3 separate regions of the Homo sapiens genome follow, and all the other regions are linked to region 2. The links come from fine-mapping of genetic effects on gene expression. A gene starts in region 2. Each other region holds a variant in brackets. All regions are shown on one strand. Distances are between the middles of the regions. Region 1 has its middle 68 kb from the start of LINC01948. Region 2 holds the start of LINC01948 (long intergenic non-protein coding RNA 1948). Region 3 overlaps LINC01948 (long intergenic non-protein coding RNA 1948).

Evidence for each region. PIP is the estimated chance that this variant, and not a neighbour inherited with it, causes the effect.
Region 1: its variant is fine-mapped to the expression of LINC01948 in whole blood (INTERVAL, PIP above 0.99).
Region 3: its variant is fine-mapped to the expression of LINC01948 in whole blood (INTERVAL, PIP above 0.99). The same link has a PIP of 0.9 or more in unexposed skin.

The regions. Positions count from the first base shown.
Region 1 is chr5:56,410,123-56,418,306 of GRCh38, forward strand. No RefSeq gene overlaps it. Among named protein-coding and RNA genes, the nearest start is that of LINC01948, 68 kb to the right of the region's middle. RefSeq lists an enhancer at 5,213-5,262. The variant A/C (reference allele first, on the strand shown) is at 3,788.
Region 2 is chr5:56,478,504-56,486,687 of GRCh38, forward strand. It overlaps LINC01948 (long intergenic non-protein coding RNA 1948), which reads right to left and starts at 3,266. Exons shown (of 5, transcript NR_104664.1): 1 at 3,050-3,266. RefSeq lists enhancers at 1,665-1,834, 3,035-3,194.
Region 3 is chr5:56,450,078-56,458,261 of GRCh38, forward strand. LINC01948 (long intergenic non-protein coding RNA 1948) reads right to left here. Exons shown (of 5, transcript NR_104664.1): 5 at 7,718-7,866. Among named protein-coding and RNA genes, the nearest start is that of LINC01948, 28 kb to the right of the region's middle. The variant G/A (reference allele first, on the strand shown) is at 4,901.

The DNA.
Region 1 (8,184 bases), 68 kb before region 2:
TGAGAAGTGCCCAGTTTGAAAAGACAGAAAATGCCTCCACTTCCTGTTTCCCTTCACCCTGAACCCCTTGTGATGCTGTCCTTGGGATGAGGGGAGACCCTTACCCACTCCCCCAAGTCTTCTTCTCTGGGTAGCTGGTTCCTCTGTCACCCAAGAGGGCTAAAACGATGGACAGAAATATATCATATTGCTGTTTTTTTTTTTTTTGGTGGAGATTTGTTGGTTTTTAACTGCAAGATTATATTACTAACTCATGTTGGCTTGTTTGTTTAAAAAGGACAAACAAACTCATTCCTATGAGAAAGATTTTTCTAGTGTATGTTTCCCCTCTCATCTCTATAAAAATAGTTGTTCCCAAAACATATTTTTTTAAACTACTGAGAACAATAAAGCATCTAGATTTTCATTTTGTTATAGTATAATGGCCCAGGTGACTTTTCCCCTCAGACCTACTGTCCTGACCTGTTTGCTTCCTCAGTTTACACCACACTCTCTCCTTACTTCCTGACCCTTTAATTATATCCTCCTTTTAGCCCCCGTCTCATGACTACAGAGGGACTTGGGGAGATGGGCAGTCGGTGCTTGGCCAGAGGCAGAACTGAACCTGGCTTGCAGGTGGGTGCCCGCTCGCCTCCCAGCTTGCTGAGCATGGTGGGAAATGTGAGGAGGCCTGGAACCTGGCCTTGACTTCAAGGATCCTGAAACTTGGGTTAGGAAATGGTTTGTGCACACGTGAAGTTTCCCAACCATACATGACAGAATATGAGTGCTATAGAGGACACCAGCATAACAAGGGCATGCCATTGCCTGCCCGACTCCACATACTGTGTCTGGCAATCTTGTTGCCACTATTTCTCCATGTTTGGATCACATGTATTCAGTTTTTAGTGATTTTTAATTGAGGACCTACCTATGTACCCTATATTGTTCCAGGGGTCATGGGATGCATTTTATTGGCGACACCTTACCATTCAGCCTGCCTGGAAGTGTGCACAGGGCTGACTTCAACCAATTAAAATGTCAACTTTATAGAAATGAGCTTAAAGGATCAGGAGAAGTCCTCTTTACATCACTAAGTAACTGAATAATGTGCTTCCTCTGTGCCATTTTAAAAAATCATCATGCCTTCAATCCTAACATTGGAACTGTATTTTCAGACAGTCACGTGGACATTTTTACGCTTGCTGATTTTTATCTAATTTTAAATGATTTTGAAATATTTCCTCGGAGTATAGGTTCTTTCCTAGAAGTTTATAAGTGTGAGTTCTACGGTAAAATTGAGGGGAAAAAACCCATCATTTTAATTTAAAAAAACCAAACCTACAGATTTTTTGTTTTTTTTTAAAAGCATTTTCCTTGCATGAATTAGGAACATTTCAGACTCAATTATTTCTACTTTTTAAAAATTTTAAACTGATTTTTGGAATAAAGGGAACTAATCAGTGTTTTAGCCACATCTTTGCTTCAAGGCAATATAATTAATCAGATTGCTATTTTAAGTCAGCCTGGGTGCTGCGTTGCCAGCTTTATAGTTTGAGGGGCTTAGGAAATATTTTCTAAGGACTTTGTACATACATAATAATGTCAGACCAAAAGAAAAAAATCAATGCATGGGTTAAAAACCGCATATTTATCCCATTTTATATGGTGAAATTTGTCTATTATATCATTTAACAGAAAACCATGAAGCCTCTCACACTATTTTGGAGAGTATAGCATTGACTAAAGCGAGGTTGAAATGAATTAAAACTGAGAGACAGAGAGAGAGAGATTTAAAAATATTTTATTCATTAATTCATTCACTCACTTATTTGCTTATTCATTAAACATGACTAAGGGCTCATTAACACATTAGTAGGTGCTATAAAGCAGAGTATGACATTTCTCTCAAGCTCTTGAGATCCCTTTTAAGCTACCCTTCCTCCTTTCTCACATTCTGGCTGACTCTCCTTCTAGGATAAGTGGATCTCTACTGCAACTCTGCACAGCCACGCCTAACCTCCTCCAGACACTCTCTACCTCTATGCCTTTGCTTCATTATTTTTCTGCTCACTTGTCCAAACCTCATCCTTCTTTTCCTAATAGCTCAACTCAGGCCTAGCTTCAAAAAAATAAGCAATTTGTATTGAGCTCCAATATAGAGCTATGAGGGTTCTTATATATAAAGAAGTACAAGATGCAACCAGGACTGTACAAACCCTGCTATCCTGCTTAGGAGTTGTGAGCCATGCTTCAAGCTTAGAGGATGTTGGCAACATATGGCATGTGTGTAATACCAGACAACTGATTCCTACCATGAGTGCTATAGGAGGTTGTGGGATGGAAAACCACTGGAAGCTTCTTAGGAAACTGAGATTTAAAATTTGAAAATAAGATCTGGGTGGCTGTGAAAAAGGGACAAGACATTCCCAGTGGGTATGAAAAGCTACCAACTCCAAGAAGGCCCAACCCAGTGGGTACCAATTACTTGCCCCCTAATGCACACATCTTGAGTTTAAACTTTGTCTCACAAGCTTAACTTGTATGCAGGCTCTTTAGCAGTGGCTTAAAAAAACAAAGGTGGGGCAGTGTTTCTGGTTTTTCTATTTTTCTCCATCCTATTTTATTTTAAGCTCCTCATAAAGAGACTCATATCTGATCTCTAGTTCAAGTTGTCCGGGTGTGCCCTGCCTCGTAGACAGACTGTGAAAGAATTAGCAGATTATAAGAATTTAAGCCCTTGTGGATATATCTGTGACAATGAGGCCAGGTGCTGGTGTGAACTGAAAAAGAAAGAGATGAGAGAGACCTGTCACTGGGCTTTGTCCACAAAAAGTGTGCGAAAAAATACGAAATCATTAAGTATTGATTTATACTGGTTATACTGCAGTATGAATGCAACCATAAAATCCAGGGGAACAGTGAAACAAAGCCAAAATATGAGTGAGGATAAGCATGGTAATTCAGAGGAAGTAGGCTGCTTGGGTCCCCGGTGGTGGGGAAATGAGTGGATGGGAGAAGCACTGGGTTGAGGAGGGTGCTGGGTGAGGCTGGGGCTTCTCTGGCTGCAAATGACGTGAGCACTGTCATGTCAGGAGACCTGAGACAGCAGCAAACTGTGAGAGGGGCTGGGCTCAGCTTGCTGTTTAGTTTCACATCCGCTGACTTTAAGTATTAATATCTGCATTTAGGCAGTAACTGTGAAGTAAGGGAATTCTTGATCAAGCTTTCCTATTTATGTTGTCCTTATCCCGACTCTCTCCCGTGACAATACAAATGCCAGCTAAGCCAGATTAATAAAGATGGGAACACTGGACTCTTCCTGGAGAATTCTGGGTTTTTCTGCATGTTTTTCTAAGATCCATTAAGAAGAGTTATCCAAATCTTGAAAATAAAGAAAAAAGATGAATGCATACCTTTTAATCTGCTTGCCCAAAAGTCATCTGATATTCTAGGGGGAGGTAACATTGTGTGTCTTACTAATTAGGACCCAGACTCTGTAAAGTTTGATGTTATCCCATAGAAAATGTTACATTGCTAAAGACATCTGTCCAGAAAAAAAAAGGGTAACCCCGATGGTTATGGCTTTATTGCCCTGTAGGACATTAACCAGTTTGGTGTCTAACTTTGCACTCTTATTTCAGAATTACTTCCAATGACTATCCACGTGATGGTTGTCATACTCTTCTTTATTCCAGCTTTGTCATTCTGCTTCTTCTCTCGTTGAGTTAAATAAATCTTTGACATCTGCTCACTATATGTTTTATGAGAGTTAAGTTTTTAACTTAAAAATAATTATACTTTGACA[A/C]ATCTTAGAAGTCGACTTGGTGTAATAGGTTTAATTTGCTGATTAACAAAGATGGCTTATGATGTATCTTTGTTAATATTAAGAACCTGAAAATCTTGCAATTAGCATTCATAATTTTATACAGTGTATTTTATACACTTCTCTGCATAAGAACACTGATAAGAAATAACTAAGAGGAACCGGCATTTTGTAAACCATTGAGTGAGTTTTGAATAAGGTTAGCGACAGAACCAAATAATTTTTTAATTTGCAAGAAATGTTCTGCTACTCTGCAGAACTGTTCTTCCCTGCACCCATCTAATTGTGAAATTCTTGCAAGGCTTCAAGTCAGGAAGCATTTCAAATAGAAAGAGGAACTTTAAAAAATGTGCCCCTGGGGAAAGATTTTCCCCCTTCTCCTCCCCGAAAAGGACTCATAATTCATTTCAGCTGCTTTGTATTTTCATGGCATCATTTTTTTAAATAGCAATAGAAAATTGAGACTTTATGGGAGAGGCATCAAATATAGGGCTAAATGTTATTTTGTCTTGGTAAGGCCTAGCACAGGATTTTATTAGCTGCTGATATTTTGTGGGAATCCTGAAATATCTAAATTAATTGTCTTCTTTAAACATTTTTTTTTTTTTCTGAGACAGGGTCTTGCTCTGTCTTCCAAGCTGGAGTGCAGTGGTGTGATCATGGCTTACTGCAGCTTTGACCTCCTAGGCTCAGATGATCCTCTGGCCTCAGTCTCCTGAGTAGCTGGGACCAGAGGCATGCACCATTACACTCAGCTACATTTTAAAATATTTTTTGTAGAAACATGTTTTTGCTATGTTGCCCAGGCTGATTTTGAACTCCTGAGCTAAAGCAATCCTACCACCTAGGATTTTCAAAGTGCTGGGATTACAGGCATGAGCCACTATGCCACCGCGCCAGTACATGGATCTCTGTACTTGCCTGGGCAAGGGGGTGAGAATCTGTCTCTACAAAAAAAGTTTTTAAAAATTAGCTGGATGCAGTAGCACACACCTGTAGTTCCAACTACTCAGGAGGCTGAGGAAGGAGGATCCCTACAGCCCAGGAGCTCGAGGCTACAGTGAGCTATGATTATGCCACTGCACTCTAGCCTGAGCCACAGAGCAAGACCCTGTTTCTAAAAAAAAAAAAAAGATATTGGGGTCAACCATCACTCCTAGTCTCTCCATGCATGAGAAACTTCACCTCTAATATAACTCCTTATAGTAGGTTCTCCGACACAAAGTAGTTCTTCAGTAAAGAAAGCCAGTTGCCTTTGCCCCGTGGCTGTCTCACTATGGACCTTTGCCGCCTGTGCTATCCGAAATCCTCTGATGCTCTTTAGTCACTCTGGTTTAGCCTCCTGCTATTAAGGCTGACTGTCCCCAAACCCACAGTAATGAAATATTGGTCATTAATATATTGTTAAGTCGTGGCAGCCCCTGCATCAATATTAAATAATTATGGTGTGCTTGAGTGCTTACCATGTCCTAGGTCGCTGACAGGGTATGATCGACCAATAAGACTGAGACAGGAACTACAGCCATCACCCCATTTCCCATGACAAACAGCAGGGCTCTGAGACTGATGAAACTTGCCCCCAGGAGAAAAGAGGAAGCAGCAATTGGGCCACGCCTCTCTACAGAGTTCTTCCAGTTGTTGACTCTAAACTTCTCACCCCCAAGAAAGTTTCACAGAGAAGTAGATTGCACAGTCTTAACACCAGCCTGAGCCTTGGGTCCAGCTTCTTATCTGCAGTCCAGTCTACTTCTCAGGAATGTCTTTCTAGGCCATTGTTTACATTATTTCAAAACCAAGGAGCTATGAAATTTCTGAGAGTCCTAAGCCTGGAACCTAAAGATTGCAATTCAAGGCCAGAATTTGCCTTGTTGTCACTGTCAACTCACTCTTCTCTTTATTATCTGCTAGCTTTGAGGGCTTTTGAATTCTTAAGACACATCTTAACTCTTTTCTTGGAGCTTTTAACATTTTCAGATTTTTAAAAATAGTTTTGTTCTTTCTTTGTCCTTAGATATCTAGTAATGCTTTCTCAGACTCGGTCAAGTTAACTCTTCTGGGATTTCATTGTTTTAACTGGCACACTGTGGGAGGTCAGTGTGTGTGTGTGTGTGTGTGTGTGTGTGTGTGTGTGTGTGTGTATGTATAAAACAGACATCAAAGGTTTCAGGAATTATTGGTCCTGTCAAAATTCTGAGTAGCTCAGCTCATATTTACTCATGCACCTTACTCTTCCAGCTCGTCTGCACTTCTTCCTTCTGGTTCTTATGTTGGCAGGTGTATTAGTAAGGGTTCCCTGGAGGGACATAACTAATAGGATATTATATATATAAAGGGGAGTTTATTAAGTATTAACTAACATGATCATAAGGTCCCACAATAGGCTATTTGCAAGCTTGAGGAGCAAGGAGGGCCAGTCCCAGTCTCAAAACTGAAGAACTTGGAGTCCAGTGTTTGATGGCAGGAAGCATCCAGCACGGGAGAAAGATGTAGGCTGGGAGGCTAGGCCAGTCTTGCCTTTTCACGTTTTTCTGTCTGCTTAGCCAGACAGAAAATTAGCCAGCAGCTGATTAGATTGTGACCACCAGATTAAGGGTGGGTCTGCCTTCCCCAGTCCACTGACTCAAATGTTAATCTCCTTTGGCAACACCCTCGTAGACACACCCAGGATCAATACTTTGCATTCTTCAATCCAATCAAGTTGACATTCAGTATTAACCATCACAGCAGGGCAAGAGAACACACAACATGATATTATCACAATATTTTTACCACAGCAAACTTAAGGTACCCCATCCACACAGATGCCTGTCAAAATAAAACAGAAAAGGGAATAGGAAGCAGGGGATGAGGAGTTAATTTCTTTTAGACTTGCTGCTTGAACTTATTCAGACTCCTCTTAGATCTGGAGCTGACATTTTTGTGACATTCTTTTCTCATAGACCATTTTTTCTACTGAGAGCTGACTTGGAGTCAAGAAAGGAAGAACAAACTAGTACTTAAATGAAATAGGATACATTTGAATAGGTCTTTTAATTTTTCCAAGTATTTAATCTCTGTTAGCTATATTCTTGTGGCGTCCATATGAAGAGATAAGTAGCAAATTTTAAAGAATTTCTACTGAAGTTAGAAAACTGAGTTCATCTAATCTTTTTATGCATCTCTATAATTTAGGAGATTGATGCTCAGAAATGATTATAATTGTTCTAGTGGAGGTGCCAGCTACTGTGCCCATAGAAGGATCTATCTGTAACTAAATTCCTTGGTATGGCCACGAATGGTAAATCTCACCTTTCTTGAGGCCCCTCTTAGCATCAGTTTCCCTGAGCTTCCCTGCCTTTCTCACCTTTCTTCCTTTGTCAAAATAAGATGATATTTTTCTAGATCCATTTATTCATCCAACTAAATATCTCCTCTGAGATGCCTATGTAACCTGTACAACAAAAAGAGCATATTGAATGAGCCCGATGAATGAGGCATCTGAAATCCTACAATTAAAAAAAAAAAGGAAGAAAAAATTAGAAGTATCTTTCCTAAAAGAAAGTCAGACATAAAAGTTGTGGTTTTTTGTTTTGTTTTTTGTTGTTGTTGTTGTTGTTTGTTTGTTTAACCTGTCCTGAAATGTTGGCAAGGTCCTATATCATAAAGTCTCTGCTTGATACATAAAATGTTTGGAGCAATCGGAATTGGTTTCGATTTTTCTCAGGGGATTATGACCCCAAGAAAGTAGGAAAACCTCTGCTGTGTATATTTACTCTCGATGAAACTCCATTTCCATATCCTGTCTTCCTATGCCCTATTCCATCTCAGTTTATTATTCAAATTCTGCCTGCTTTCATTCATTCAACAAAAATTGTTGAGTGGATATTACATGCTAGAAAGTGTTTGATATGTTCCCAACCATCTGAGCTGGCCATTCTTCCACTGGGTAAGAGGAACTCAGGAGTCTGAAACCCCTTGGAGGTAAAATTAAGGAAAAAAGATCAGAAAATACGTTTTTGAATAATAAAGTTGTTTTTTTTTTTACAAATGTTTTGTGGTTGTTTCAAAATGTCTTCATATTTACTTAGCATTTTCATAGATTACAAAGGAACTTCATAAATACTCTAACTACAACGTCCACTCCTAGGGTGTGGATAGTTTCAGTAGCCTTCCTCACTATGAGCTTGAGTGTAGAGACTGTGTTTTATTATGTTTATGTCTCTAGAATTTGGCCCGGGGTCAAGTAGGGATTAGGCTCTCACTAAGTAATTTTTAAATGAACGTCTTCATATTACATGTATATAAGTTATTTCCTATGCTGGTTTGTAATTGGAGGCTCTTTGCACTATCTCCTTTCCAGGTGCACAGCATTGTTCTCATCAGACAATGCATTTGGCTGA
Region 2 (8,184 bases):
ATGGTGGTGCACACCTGTAGTCCCACCTACTTGGGAGGCTGAGTACGAGAATTGCTTGAACCCAGAAGGTGGAGGTCACAGTGCCCCGAGATCACACCACTGCACTCCAGCTCCACAGAGTGAAACTCTGTCTCAAAAAAACCTTAATAATAATAATAATAAGGCTTATAAAAAATAACCTAGGGAATTCATTAATGATGAGCAAATGGAAGTGATTCAAATAACCCTTTTGTGGCCCTAAAATATCCTGATAGGTAGCTATTTTAGCACGTGTAACATTCCATTGTATTCTTTATTTCTTTATATCTCCACTATTCCAAAGCCTCTCCAGGGCAGGGAATTCTCTCTTTTACTGTAATGTCACAAAGTCTCCTCTATTACCTGTCCTATATAAATGTTGTTGAGTAAATGAAAAGTGAAGCCATAAATTAATGAGTGAAGGAGTAAGCAAGTAAACAAATACTCATTTGAAGGGAATATTTTTTGCATTAAACCAAAACAACTGTATCTTATACAAACTATTTCTAAAAAGATAGCATTTTCCTTATTTATTATGAACTATTGCCAACTTCCCTTCCCCTGTCTCTGAGAAATGCAAAGTCCCTGATTTAGAGTAATTTCTCAAGAGTTGTTTAGGGGTTGTCTTAGTCAGCTCAGGCTGCTATAACAGAATATATATTGTAGGCTGGATGGCTTCAACAACAGACATTTATTTCTCCCAGTTCTGCAGGCTGGGAAGTCCAGGAGCAAGGTGCCAGCAGATTCTGTTCCCGATGAGGGCCTTGGTCCTGGCTTGCAGATAGCTACCTTCTTGCTGCGTCCTCATGCAGGTGAAGGGAGAAAAGGCTCTAGTTTTGCTTTCTCTTCTTATAGAGACTAATCTCATCACGGAGCCCCACCCTCATGCCATCATCTAAACCTAATTACTCTCCAAAGACCCCCCTCTAAATTCCATCACATTGAAGGTTAGATTTTCAATATCTGAATCTTGGGAGGATGCAAACATTCAGTCCTTAGCAGGTGCTGGAAGTATTAACACAGTGCCCAAAAACGATAGAATATTTTTGGTAGGATGAATCCACTTTCAACCCTGGAAGCCAGGCATTTCAGAGTGGAAAAGAAAAGAGAAGCAATAACTGCACAAATAAGCATCTTATTAAGGAAATCACTAGGTTTTTGAGGGCTGCACATTCTATGCTTTCTAAAGGATGATGTCTCAGCAGGCGGAACGAAGCTAATCTTGCCTGGCTGCACTCTTCTGTTCTGGCAGGGGGCTGGTGCCGCTCCCTGCAGATGCCCACGATGCCAGGCAGCCTGGTTTAGTTTGTGGAACGTGCTCTAATCCGTCAGCACAGCCACAGTAGATACTCTGAAAACTAAGAGAATCACCTTCAGCAGCTTATCGACTAACCACAGGCCCTTATCTCAAATGGGAACTGATTCAAACCGTTATTCAAGCTTATTCAAATGAATTTGAGAGTCTACTAACAGCCCTGGCTACATAATTTGCCGGGTGCAGTTCAAACTGAAAATGCAGGGTCCTTTTCAAAAATTATTAAGCATGTCAACATGGTGTCAGTAGAGCATCCAACTAAGCACACGTCGGCTTCTGAGCACAGGTCACAGGCCCAAAAACCCAGCCATGCCAAGCAATGACTATCCAATAAGTCAAACACCAGGAAACCCCAACCCCTCCACAGCCCTGCGGCTGCTGCAGCAGAAAAACAAAAACAAAACAGACACTCAACACCATCAGCATCAGCTCTTCCCAAACCACCAGCCTTCCTCAGAACCTCCCTCATTTGACCTGTTTTAACTCGTGTTCCCTCGACCTTCAAATTTTCAGTGTCCACAAAGCAGATCAAGGCTATCACAAAACAAAACAAACACCAAAAAGCCAACCCACTGGATCTAGAGACCTACGGACTTGCCCTCCTGATACTTGCAGCTGGTGTTTAAGGACGTGCCTGCCTTGGGCGATGGGCGGGTAGAAACCTCACACACCAAAGCCCATCGAGCTAAACTCAAGGTTGCGAACCCCAACCCCGGTGGGAACACGGTCTGCAGACACGCTCCCTTAAGTCCCTGTCGCACACAATAAATTGCTTTCTGAATATTCCCTTTACAACTGCAAAAAATAGAAATGGCTGTAACTGTGCAGAGAAAGAAAAGAGAAGCTGGGATGAGCTCCATCAGGGGCCGAATCTGCTTCTCGCTGGTGGATACTGTGATAAGAAACCTAGATCTGAACGGCCTCACAATGGCCTATTTATCCGGCTCTTACGCACGGCCGGCAGCCCCGGCTGGGAATCACGGGGGTGGCAGCCGTCCCCGGAAAACGGCGGCATTCCGACACAGGAAAGCCCGCGGATCAACTGATCTGCAGACAACGCTTCTTCCTTCCTGGGAAGCGGCCACAAAGGCAGCCAGCTGACCCCGGCCCAGCGCGGCTCCCGGCCGAGGAGGACAGGGGCGGGGTGGGGAGGGGGGGAATCGTCGCCCGCCCCGCCCCCACCCCCCAAGTTTCCTTTGGCAAAAGCATCCCAGGCGTGGTTCAGGCAGAGTCCACGCCAGCGAGGCTGGGGCCGAAACTCTCCACGCCAGGAAGGCGGGGTAGGCGGACCCGCCGCCCCCAGCCCCGCGCGCCCGCCGCGCCCCCCACGGCCCCCACCAGCTGGCTCTTCCGGCCGGGGCGGCCTTGGCCTGGGGCTGGGGTTGACTTTGGTGGGGGGACAGGAAGGACTGGCACAGCGCCCGCGACTGTCCCCTGAGGAGGACCCTCCCTACGACTTTTGGTCAAAAGCAAAAAGAAACACAGACATGTGCGTCACCCCGGGAAGCGCGCGGGGGTTTCGCTCGCGTTTCAGGAGCCGACTTCGCATCCTCCCTCGGTAGGGGGGTCGGGGGTTCCTAAAATTTACCCCCCAACTTCACTTCTCTGGCGACAGAGCACCTTAACAGTTCATTTCCCTCTCGCTCTCAAGTGAAAACATCTTATTTTTGTGTTAAAATGTATAAAGACACCATGAGAATTGGCAGGAGGTCAAACCGTAGATTCTGAGATGCTCCGGTCGCTCCCCAGGAAGCGCTGTTTTCGGAAGTGTTGACCCAGCAGCTGGTCCCTGCTGCTCTAATGACACGATGTGTGCTTTCACTTTTTCACTCCCAAAACGACGTGGTTTGGAGTCTTGAGAGCCTTGGAAATCGCTGCCCGTGGAGGGAAAGGTCTGGAGAGGCCAGGCCAGGAGAGCAGACATGCTGCAAGAAGCGGAGGCAGCCCTGTGAACTCGCCTGGCTCCGCAGGGAGGGGCGAGGCTGTCCAGGTCGCAGGTGGAGCTGGCCAGCTGCGAGCCAGGATGTCCTTGCTCTTTCCAAATTATACACAGTTTCCACAAGGAAAAAAGAGAGGGGTAGGGGGTCCAGGCAGATCTTCAGCTGTTTGTATACTCTGCACCAGGAGGCGCTATCATCAGCCCGGACCCCTACTCCACAGGACTGAGGAGACCACAATTCTTCCCTCCAGGCAGAATCGTGGACCCAATATTCCCGTCTCCCCGAATTCTCTTAACTCAGTATACTGCCATTAACAGCATAGTCAGCCTTCTGGACTTGAACTCCAGAAGGAATTTTGTCTCATTTAGTGCCTGCAGGGGAGCAGGATGAGATAGTACCTCTTGTACCGGCACAAGGTCTCTGAGTTGACTCTTACATAAACATTGCGCTGTTTCTAGGGACGGCATCATTTCTTGACCTAGAGAAACAAAGATATTGTGGGAAGGACCCCTGATGCTCAGTGGCAGTTTGGAGACCTGGCATTAGCCTTACTCAGTAAGGCTTCCTGATCTAGCAGGACTGATCCAGTCAGCTTTGATGATCCCCTAGCCTGGTACTGGGATTCTTCCAAACACCCATGAGATCACCCACATCTCACAGGGGCTGGTAGTGTTCCAGCAGAGAAAGGTGAGGGTAGCAAGCAGTAGTCACTTTGGGCCTGAAATGAACATCTTGGGGTTTTTATATCTGCCCACCCACTATGGGACATTATTGTCCCTTCCTCTTTGCTACAGTGTTTCCAGAAAATGAGAAGTAGCATCTTCTTAGAAATAGATTGGGTACCCTGTCTTAGACCTAGTTCCTTTTTTTTTGTTTTTTTGAGACGCTGTCTCACTCTGTCTCCCAGGCTGGAGTACAGTGGTGCGATCTGGGCTCACTGCAACCTCCGCCTTGGGGGTTCAAGTAATTCTCCTGCCTCAGCCTCCTGAGTAGCTGGGAATCCAGGTGTGTGCCACCACACTCGGCTAATTTTTGTATTTTTAATAGAGACAGGGTTTCACCATATTGGCCAGGCTACCCTTGAACTCCTGACCTCAAGTGATTCGCCTGCCCCAGCCTCCCAAAGAGCTGGGCAGTTACTTTTATTATAGTTCTAGATAACATAGAAAAGAACATGGAAAGCAGCTATGCAAGCAAAACACAAACACAAACAACCCTGTTAAAAAGTGGGCAAAAGACATGAACAGACACTTCTCAAAAGAAGACATGCAAGCAGCCAACAAATGTGAAAAGATGCTCAGCATTGCTGATTATCAGAGAAATGCAAATCAAAACCACGATGAGATCTCACACCACTCAGAATGACTATTATTAAAAAGTCAAAAAAACAACAGATGCTGGCAAGGCTGTGGAGAAAAGGGAACACATATACATTGCTGGCATTGCTGGTGGGAATGTAAATTAATTCAGCCACTGGGGAAAGTAGTTTGGAGATTTCTCAAATAAAACAAAACTACCATTCGACCCAGCAGCAATCCCATTACTGGTACATATCTAAATGAAAAGAAATCGTTTTACCAAAAAGACATTCATTTTTATGTGCTTCACAGCATTATTCACAATAGCAAAGACATTGACTCAGCCTAGGTGTCCGTCAATGGAAGACTGGTACATATACACCATGGAATACTATGCAGCAATAAAAAAGAAGGAAATCATGTCCTTTGTAGCAACATGGATGCAGCTGGAAGCCACTATTCTAAGCAAATTAATGCAGGAGCAGAAAAACCAAACAGTGCATGTTCTCACTTATATATGGGAGCTACATATTAGGTACACATAGACATAAAGATGGCAACAATAGACACTGGGGGATACTAGAGGGAAGCAAGGGTTGAAAAATAACTATTGGCTACTATGCTCACTGCCTGGGTAACAGGATCATTTTACCCCAGACCTCAGCATCACATGTATATCACACAATATACCCATGTAACAAATCTGCACATGTACCCCTGAATCTAAAATAAAAGTTGAAATTATATATTTAAAAAAAAAAACAGGACAGAACATGAACTATGGTGACTATTTTCAAAGGAGGGAGACTTTGCATTTGCCAGGGTTCAGGTTTTATAATATATTCTTGATATCAATATATTTTAAAAGATATCTGGGTGAAGTTTAAAAATCCCCTGAACACACATTTAATAAGCTATCTCCGAAACCTATTGAGAAAGGCTGTTCTTTGCCTGCCCAGACTCTGCCTCTTCCATTCTGACTGTCCTCACAGCCAATGGGACAACCCGTAAGAATAATGAGCTCTGGCCACCCAGCCCCATCCATGGTCAATGCCTCTTGCGGAACCCATTGTCTTTGCCTTATAGGATTGCAGACCTGGCCTCCGACTCCTAATGGCTTGCTCTATTTCCTGCTTGCACTCTGCCTCTCTCCATCTAATGGCGGAGCCTCCCTGGCTCCAACCCCCTGTGCTTTCCCTTAATGTCCTGCTCTTCCAGACACTCCAGTAACTTCCTTGCCCAACCTGTTGGCTTCCATGGCAAGTGCTCCTGGAAAACCTGATCGGCCCCTGCTCCTCTAAAGGGGTTCTGACACACGCTCCCCTTCAAGTTGCTATAGGACATCAGACACCAAGATTGTGGGCAATTACTACCATAAATAAATGCACAAGAATACCACGGTTCTGTTTGAAGAAAGTGATTAGGATTCAAGACCGTCTACACATAACGGTCTATATAATGGCTTCTTGCTTAGACTTGGTCACTTCCAGAGTCTTCTGTCCACCTCTCTCCCATCCCCCTCCTGCTTCCCCATTAGTTTAGTAAAATGTGCTTTGCAGAGAGCCCAGTTAGTGCCTTCCTACAACTGAGGATTAATGAGGCAGCAGAGAGGTCCAGGCCCCCACTTATTGTCCCTCCCATCCACTGGGCAGTTCCTCCACTCCACTGAGTCAGGAAGGAGAAAATTCTAACCACCAGGACTATTTTTTTTTTTTAACATCAAAGTCCTGCTGAATGTAAAATGGTACCATTACTATGGAAAACAGTTTGGTGGTTCCTCAAAATGCTGAACATTGAATTACCATATGACCCTGAAATTCCACTCCTAGGTATATGCCCAAAAGAACTGAAAACATATTTAAACAAAAATCTGTACATCAATATTCATAACAGCACTGTTCACAGTAGCCAAAAAGTGGAAACAGCTCAATTGTCCATCAATGAGTGAATGGATTAATAAAATGTATGTACATACAATGGAATAGTATTCAGCCATGAAGAGGAATGAAGTATTGATACAAACTATAATCCAACATATATTATATATAAAATACAACATAAATGAACCTACAAAACATTAAGGTAAGTGAAAGAGGCTAACTAGTTGATCATAATAATGATGATAATGAGAATGATAACTTATGATAGTGAAGATGACTATGATGATGGAAGAAAGAGGCTTAAAGGGGGTCCCACAAGTCTAGACAATATAGCATCCCTAGATTCCCTGGAGCAGGACAATATTTCTGAGCAATCCTAAGCCTTGAGCCACTTTGACCCCACTGTTGGTGCAGCCTTGCCCAGATCAGGGTTGGTAAGTAACAGAATCCAAGTTTGTCCAGTATCAGAGCCAACAATAATTCAACTGCACCTCAGGCTCCCTAAAATGGCAGTAAAGTTTTACAATTATAGCTCTGGGATCACAGAACTTCTTAGACATATATATATAATGAGAACATTCACTAATACTGAGTGCTTCGTATATACCTGGCACTGTTCTATGTGATTTATATATGTTAAGTTGTTAATTCCCACTGAAGTCTTGTGAACTAGGCATTGTTATTAGTCTCATTTCATAGATGAAGAAACTGAGGAACAGAGAGATAACATTTGTGTCCAAGACCTTATAGCTGTCAGGCAGCAGCGTCTGGATTGACACCCAGAGAGAAGGCTGCCACCAGGCCTCTGAAAGAGCTTACTGGGCAGGCACCTGCGTGATTACTTCTGGCTCTTCTCCTCCCTTGTAGAATCCCAACATGCTTCTCTTTTGTTCTTTCAGGGAGACCATGTCCTCCAACATCTGGCCCGGCTACCTTTGGCACCAAAACTGTATACATACCCTAGAGCAGAGACTTACTGAGTTTCCTTGATGGTATTTTTGTGCTGTTTCCTACATCAGGATATAAATACAACAAAACAATAGCTTGTCTTTTCATTTGCCTTTGCTGTTGTCTGTGCGATGAGCTCTGGGTGAAAGGACACTGGGACAGTATACAAATAGCTTTGGCTCTGAAGGTAAAGGCTTTTCTTTGCCACTGCAGGAAGTTCAAAAGAGATTTGTTCTTTTTTTGGGGACTGGGTGAGAGAGACTGATTCACGATTTTATTTTATTAGCGAGTTCAAGAGGCCTGGGATATTCATCTTGCAATGCTGTTTTGCATTTGTCTTTCTCCTTCATTCTCCAGAAAACCAGTAACACTAGGCTATAAAGCCATGAAGCTTCCCAGTTGGTGAATTCGGGGTGCTGGGGACCTAGATAGGGAAGAAGTTACTAGTCTGAAGAGGGCCTAGATGTGGCTTCAGTAATACCTACTCTAATACTTTCCCCTCCCCATTTTACAGATGAGGGAATTCAGTCCCAAATGGCAAAGAGACAGTTACCTTCCTAGGTCGGTAGTAGATGCAGAACTTAAGCCCTGGCCAGTCCCCTAGTTCTATATTCAAAGTTTTTCCCTGCCATGGAACCTTCCTCTCCACTGCCCCTGAAAGAAGTAGAGCACTGTTAGAAGAGTCAATGGATGCCAGGCCTGGCAGAGGTCAGGCTGACAGCAGATGTCAGAGGTGGTAGAAGCCAGAAGGGCCAGGGACAAAGTTTAAGGCTGTGGTCATAAAG
Region 3 (8,184 bases), 28 kb before region 2:
CAAGGTTTTGCCCATTGTTGCCACTGGAAAGAAAGAGGGAAAAAATGTTAGCACGTCCATGGAATTTGCAAAGTTACCAAATAGTTTAATATCCAGGTAAATCAATGGCAGCTCAAAAATTCCATGATTGTGTAATCCTGCCTCAGCTTTTTAATATGAGAATATTTACCACTGAAGGAGTACCTTGATCCCCTCTGACCAGCTGTGAGCTTATTAGTCTAATTCCCAAGTAACTCTAATCAAACATGATCATTTAAAAAATCTTCAGTAGCTAATCTTCCTCTCATTCAATTAAAAATATCTGTCATCTTCTCGATGTGACATCCAAAGGCTGGGAGTCCCAAACCTTGCTAAAAGAGAAAAGACATTTTCCCTATATCATGTGCTGGGGTATTTCCAGGGCTTATAATGGTGAGAAAGAAATGCTCTCCTGTATCCTATGCCAGCCAGTAGCATTCTGTCCAAACAATTCCCACACACTCCCACCCAGATGAATTGTATTTAAAGAGAATAGATTTTCACCTGAACACTCTATCTGATTTAGAACTCTGCTTTTCTCCATGAATGCAGAGAGAAAGCTATAATTCTTCACAATCATGAGCATCTTTAGCCTTGGGAAGTATGTCAACGTGCTGGAAGAAGGTAGTTGCTTCTCAAAGGCTGCCATGTTAGAAATCCATATGGCCAATGTTTCTGCCATTGTTCCTTTCCTGCTGTGAGGAAAAGTGCCTATGTAGTCTCTGGCTACACGTGATTGTCCTGTGTGATACGATGCCATGATCTGGCCGTCTCTTACAGTACAGCTTTTCATTCCGAGATAGCCTGTCGTGCTGGCTGTTTTGGATGAAGCTTGGCATGAGCACAGAAAGTCCATACAGCCACCCACAACTTGATCTACTAGTTGTGAACGGAAACTTTTGAACACGTTCCACCAGCTGCACAATGGTACCATTTATTACTTTATTCTCAGGGGAAAACGTTTGCTGTGTGAATAATACCAGGGACTTATGTAAGCTTCTTCATTTTCAGGGAGCTTTATGGGTGTCAGCAAATTCACACAACACCCTGGTAAGGTAGCAAGGTATTGTTATGTCTTCTTTACAGGGAGAGAAACCAGATCACAGCATCGGATTTTCCCAAGGCCAAATGGACAATAAGTGGCATGGACTTATTTCCAGAGAGATCCATACTATTCTGCTGGAAAGCACAAAGAATTTCCCACTCACAGAAAGTCTCAGTGGGATTCAATCCTGGACTTAAAACTTGTGGATTAGTACCCTGACTTTTGATGTATCTCCTAAATGTTGCCTTACTTTGGGTTTTGTCCAGATAGGTAAAAAGAGCAAGATAAGGCAGGGGCACCCATCTAGGTGAGTGATGAAGATTTCAGTATCTCCCTTGCCACAGAGTAAATGTCTAATCTATAATCACAAGATCATGGGGGTTTGGGGGTGTGTGAGGGGATGTAAGTATCTATAAAGCCCCATGAGAAAAAAAAACTTGCAGTATAATATAGAACAGATTTGTTTATTTCAATTGCTGTTTAGGAGATTGAGAAAGGTTTCCCTATCAGCTCCAGGAACATACTAAATACCTGCTGTAGTGAGTTGAATTGTGGCCTCCAAAAAGATATGTCCAAGCCGTCAACCCCAGTACCTCTGACTGTGACCTTATGTAGCAAATGGGCCTTTGCAGATGTAATTAAGGAATGATCTTGGGATGAGATCATCTGGATTTAGGATAGGCTTAAATCCAACGACAGCAGTCCTTAAAAGAGAATGGCAGTGGGAGATCTGAGACACAGACATAAGGAGGGGGAAGACCAGGTGAAGACACGGGCAGGGACTGGAGTGATTCAGCTGTAAGCCAACGAACGCCACGGGTTGCCAGCAGCCACCTGAAGCCAGGAGGGCGTGGAATCGGTTTTCCCTCTGAGCCTCCAGAAGGAACTGATTCTGCCAGCACCTTGATTTCAGGCTTCTGGCCTCCAAAACTGTGAGAGAATTAATTTTTGTTGTATTTTAGGTCACCCAGTTTGTGGCTATTTGTTAGACTAGCCCCAGTAAACCCTCTTCAGCTCCTTCTTCCAGTCTTTAGAGTCATATGGACTTTAACCCAATTTAAAGCTGTATACACGCCATGCCAGACATTTCATTTTAATTGTTTTATTTTTGTAGAAATGGGGTCTTGCTCTGTTGTCCAGACCGGAGTGCAGTGATGTGATAATAGCTCACTGCAGCCTTGAACTCCAGGTCCAAGTGATCCTCCTGCCTCAGCCTCTCCAAATCTTTTAATTTGTGTGTGTGTGTGTGTGTGTATGACAGAAAGAGAAAGGGCATTCTAATTCGAAAGTGATTGAAAATTATTCTCCTGGATAACCATCATTAGTGAATGAAGAATTGGATTATCTTGACACATCTCACTGTGAAAGCAGAAGGGCATCTGGAAGGCAGAAGAAGTCAAGAAGACAGTGGAGTGAGTTCAAATTCTGATTGCAAAGCAACAATTTTCATACCTTCTCTTCTCTAGGCCACTGCACCAAGGAGCACACATGGAGCACAGAATAGCCTTTAAAAATAATAAGGTAATAATTACTAACACAAATTCATGACACGAAATTCAACTATTATTGAAATTCATAATATAGAAATGACAACCTCTAAAATACATATGGTACATATTCCTCTGATATTTTTATCCCTGCTCAACAATATAAATACACACACACACTCTTTCTCCCCCTAACATTTTAAAAATTGGAATGGAGAGTAGGTCTGCAGTCAGCCTGGTGCCTACTAATTTTTTGGAGCTAATTCAGCTTGACAGAAGCAATGTTTGCTGAGTGTGCCTGGGTGTAAGTCCTGTTTCTTGCAAGCCTTGGGTAAGGCACAAAACCTTCACAAAATACATCTGATATGAGATTACTTCTATGGTTAGAGAACAAGTTTGTCAAACCTTTTCTCTCAAAGACTCAGTAATAAATATTTTAGGCTCATGGGCCATAAGGTCTCCACTGCAACGACCCAACTCTCTGGTGTAGCGTGAAAGCAGCCACAGATCATGTGCACATGCATGTGCATTTGTGCTGTATTGTCAGTACACTGCTGCAGAACAGATTACCCCACACTCAGTCAATTAAAACAACACCCACTTATTATTTCTAGTTCTGTAGGTCAGAAGTCTGGGTGGACTTAGCTGAGCTGTTCACTTAGGTTTTACGCTGCTGACATGAAAGTATTGGCTGGCTGGGCTCTTATCTGGGGGCTTCCAAGCTCATTCAGGTTGTTGGAAGAATCCATCTCCTTGGGGTTGTAGGACTGAAGTCCTGGTTTCCCTGCTGCTTGTCATCAGGGCCACACTCAGGGCTCCTCTGGGCAGTTCATAGTACAGATGTTTGCTCTCTTCCTGGTCAGCTGTAGCATGTTTCTTTAACTTCTATTCTGCTACCAGCAAGAGAGAACCCTGTTGTAAATGGCTAGTATGATTAGGTTAGGCGCGCCTGGGTAATTTCCCTTTTGAAGAGCCCCCAAGTCAACTGATTAGTAATCTTAATGACATCTGCAAGAATTCCCTTTGCAATAAAATGTAACATAAATCACAGGAGTGATACTTCAGTACATTCAGAGGTTTCACTCACACTCAAAGGGAGGCGATTAAACAAGGATGAGCATCCCTGGGGGACATTTTAGAATTCTGCCCACCACAGCTGGGTTCTAATAGAGCTTTATTTATTGACACCAAAATTCAAATTGAATACAATGTTCTTGTGTAACAGAATAGTGTTCTTCTTTTGATTTCCTTCTTAATCATTTAAAAATGTAAAAATTCTTAACTATTGAGGCTGCACAGAAACAGGCAAAGGCCTGGATCTAGCCCATGGCCTGTGGTTTGCTGACCCCTGGGCTAGAAGATCAAGTAAACAAATCTTGAAAAAATACCAAAAGAGAAATTGTCATAGTGCCCCATCCAGTGCCTTGATCACAGTAGGTACTCAATGAATGAATGAACAGATACTGAGTTCCAGGAGAGACAGAAGACACATGCACCCCACATATCCTAGAGCTGAGTCTGCTGCTGTGGGTAAAATACAAACACTCCCATCTCTCCTTTTGAATGTGAGACCGGGCATAATCACAGGACGTTCAGGTGACCCAGAGCTCAGACTCCAGCGCCTTCCACATTTCCCTCAGGCTCCAAAGCAAAAGCACGGTATAATTACAAGGGCCATGTTGCAGTTTAGGTCAATCCAGCGCATGTTATCTGATAAATGAATTCCAAAGCCAAGCGAAACTCTCAGCAGTCTTTCCCCAAGATGCTGGGCTCAGCATCAGCGTTCAGTTCTCCTTAATTACAGGTTGGCTTGTTTTGTTGCGCAATAGTGCCCCAGCCCGGATGAATGTCATTTCCTTTCTTGGTAGGTGAAATGGATGAGGTGAGAAAGGCCCGGACCACACCGAGAATCGAATGCATGGTAAACATAGGGCCACGGGGAAGTCTTGACACCGCTCGGCAAGATCTCTCACCGATGGATCCACCCTCTATGTTTTCTGATTGGACACATTTCCTGAGATGGGAAGGATCATGCTATTGGCTGAGGCTGCATCAGGGGAGTAATATTTACTCTGGAAAATCTGGGAGAGGGTGTCCCAGTCTGTGAACTACCCAGACCCCCACGTTCACAGAATACTAGGATGAGGAGGATCCCAAGGAACACCTGCATCAACTCTCATGTTCTACAAGGGAAGAAGCCAGGTCTCAGGGACATTAAATCACTTTCCCAAATGTACCAAGCTAGTTAGAGTGAAGAAAGATCCTATTTATCCCAGTTCCCAGTGAAATGCCATTTCTGCTCCATACCTTCTCTTCTCCATGTGTCCTATGCTCTCGCACTTTTTGTGCT[G/A]CTTAGCGTTTTGCCCAGAGGTGTGCCAGAGATTATTGCTCATTCTTTCTCCTTCCACGGTCACAACACCTCCCTGGGCTGGTGTCACCTCTTACTTTGCAATTCAAAACGTTGAAGAAGGTGCGACCTGTCTAGATTTTCGTGTAGCCTTCTCTCCTGATTGCTGTTTCAGATAACACATTCAGGGTGTTGGTAAATAGCTGTGAATCAGAGCCTCGGGGACAGCCTGGTTTGGTGTGTGGATAGTCTGGCTAATGTCATAGCAGTCCCTGCCTTAAATATCAATGTCCGAGGAAGGTGGGATGCTGTTTCCAAAAGATTGATTTGCACTTCTGCTAATATATGGCTGAGTGTTCTTTAAAATGGAGTATTCTGCTTGCCCTCTGCCACCTTCACAACACCCTAAATCTTTGGAAGAACGTGCTTCTTGTTGGACCTACAAGTGGGGAGCATCTTGCCTTGTCCGGCCTGTCCCAGTTTCTCGGGAACCCTTGAGGTTTCTGTCCCTGTTCCACATACTTAGCCCCATCTCCAGGCTTCCTGTCCATCAGCCTGAGAGACCATACTCTAGGAGTCTTAAGTGCTGAGTTCCCTAGTGGGAACTCACTGGACTGCAACGCCCCAAGTCCCTCCTTCTCTCTCTGTGCCTTGGGATGGGCTTTGTGCCAGCTGTGCCCATCCTGCTGTTCTGCAGCTTGGTGCCCCTTCCTAACGTGATGGGCCTCTGCTAAGGTCATGTTCTTTCACCAACCCAGGGTCCTTCCAGCTCCTCCACCAAAACAGTGCCCTGGTTGTCCTCACTTGTCCCATCTTCAGCAGGGAGGCACTTGATTCTGTGGCATTTGGCACTGCTCACTGGGCTTTCTTTTCTTTTCACTGTAAGACTCATGCATTAGATCTGTCTTGCTATAGTCCTAACAATGTCTCTGTGTCCCCACTCCCATTCAACTCTTGCCATTCTCCAGCCATTGCTCTTGAAGAATGTGGGACTAATAACCCTGGGTAGGGTCACAAGGCCCTGCAGAGGTGATGCCATGAAGTTGCCTACACAGAACTGCCTCCCTGCTAAGAGTTCCAGGATCAAATTCTTCTAGGTGCCTGCTTGGGTGGGTCCTCATCCCCACCCCTGCCCAGGGCACCATCTGTGGGAGATTAGGAGGTAATCACTGTCTACCCCTCAGACACCACGTGCTGCATGACTGTGTCCTGAGGCAGCCACATGGCTGCCAGCTCTGAAGGTCCTGAGATCCCCATTCTGAGGCCCTTCGCTGACTCACTGCTCTCATTCTTCTTTCTCTGTCCACTCTCAGGGCAACTACATCCACACGGTGAAGGCAGGGCCTGTGTAGTGGATGCCAGGCTGTCTTCACGTACATTTCTCTTTCTCTTAAGCATCCTGGACCATAAAGCCCTAGTGTGCTGCTCCTACCTTGCCAGTAGGACTCCTGTCTCAGCTCCGTCTCCTGAAGACTGACCCTACAGGAGAGATACAAGCATCTCCTGTTACCTGTGCCCAGATGGTCCTTAAAAAATCATTTTCCTATTTGATAAACATAAAAATGTTATGTCTGACCAGCCAACAGGCTCTAGACCTGAGCCATCTAGGAAGATGAGGCCCCACCCCTAACTGGTGCCCTCTTTGCAGATTCACTGATGCAGATTCTTGTCAGCAGAGATAACTTGTCAAATTTTACTTTCATCAAGAGAAATATAATTAGAGTGATGTACTTTTCATTTCTAAATTATGAAATTCTATTATAATGTGAAATATGTATTTTCAAAGTATACATACATTTCCTTTTAGAAATGTTGATATACCTCCCTAGGAACTTTCCTTCCTTTTGTTAGAAAATCAATGCTGTAAAATGTTAGGGAACAAAAGAAAGGTATGGAGGAAGATCAACCTTGTGGGACCCAGGAAGAAGCAGGGAAGAAGAATCCCACTATGAAACTACCTTTCCAGGACAAATAATGTTCTCAGAAATGGGCATGTACTTTGTCTCCAGGCAGATAGCCTGCCCATTACATTTTTGTTTTGTTTTGTTTTGTTTTGTTTTGTTTGAGACGGAGTCTCACTCTGTCACCTAGGCTGGAGTACAGTGGCACGATCTCGGCTCACTGCAGCCTCCACCTCCTGGGTTCAAGCGATTCTCCTGCCTCAGCCTCCTGAGTAGCTGGGACTACAGGTGCCTGCCACCATGCCCAGCTAATTGTTGTATATATTTTTTAGTAGAGATGTGGTTTCACCATGTTGGCCAGGCTGGTCTCGAACTCTTGACTTCAAGTGATATGCCTACCTCGACCTCCCATTACGTTTTAAATAGCACAGCTCTCTGCTACGTTGTATATTTCCCAAATAAAAAGTTTTCAGCTCAATCTCTAGAAAAGCTCTGCTTTATCAACTTTCTGTTTCTCATGCCATGAGTTGACTATGACTCTCTCACGCACCTGCCAATCAGTTTTATCACTTGCCATTAGGAGGTCCTTGGGAAGCAATGGGAAAGCTCCCCAGTCCAGAGAAACTAACTTCAGGCATGTGTCTGAACTCAGAGGCTCCAACCAAGAGCAGGGAAGGGCCTTGTGGGAGGTGAGTGCATTTTGGATATGGGGAGCAAGGCTGGTGGGATTCTGCTAACGAAACTGATCACAGGTGACAGGGCTCTCCTTTGAACTTGATTATTTTTAAAGTTCACCTCTCCCTGATCCATAACGAGGTCTGGTGAGACTTGTCATAGTCCCAGAATTATTTCGATCATTCCAGCTCAGCCGAAACAATGAGAGAACATCAATATGGCAACTCCTCAGATGTCTGGGAAGAGGGATCATCACCCAGGCCTGGGAGCTCTGCGCAGTTTTGTCTGCCTTGGCTCCAAAGTGCTCTTTGCCCTTAACACTGCACCACTGTACAGATTCACACAGCTGGCACTAGCTCCACAGTGGCTAAGGTTGTGCTGCTTAGGACTGACCTGGAGGAGAGGGGAGAAAAAGATGGTATTAGTGGCTCCCTTTCATGTCAACAGGTTCACTGAAAAAGGAGCAAAGGGCTTAGTCATGTTTTAATGCTCTCAAAGCTTACTATGTATCCAGGATATTTTGGGTTATATTTAGTATTTGATTCACGTTTCAATTATTTTAGCAGTAGACAAAGCAAAAGCTGAGTGAGTCCCATGCAGTAAAATCCTAAAAGCTTTTCCCAACCTAAAGACAGCCCATAACTTTCAGCTTACATTTTACATGAGGAAAAACAAATGTTTCAGTGAAGCGTCCCAAATTCTTAGAAGAAT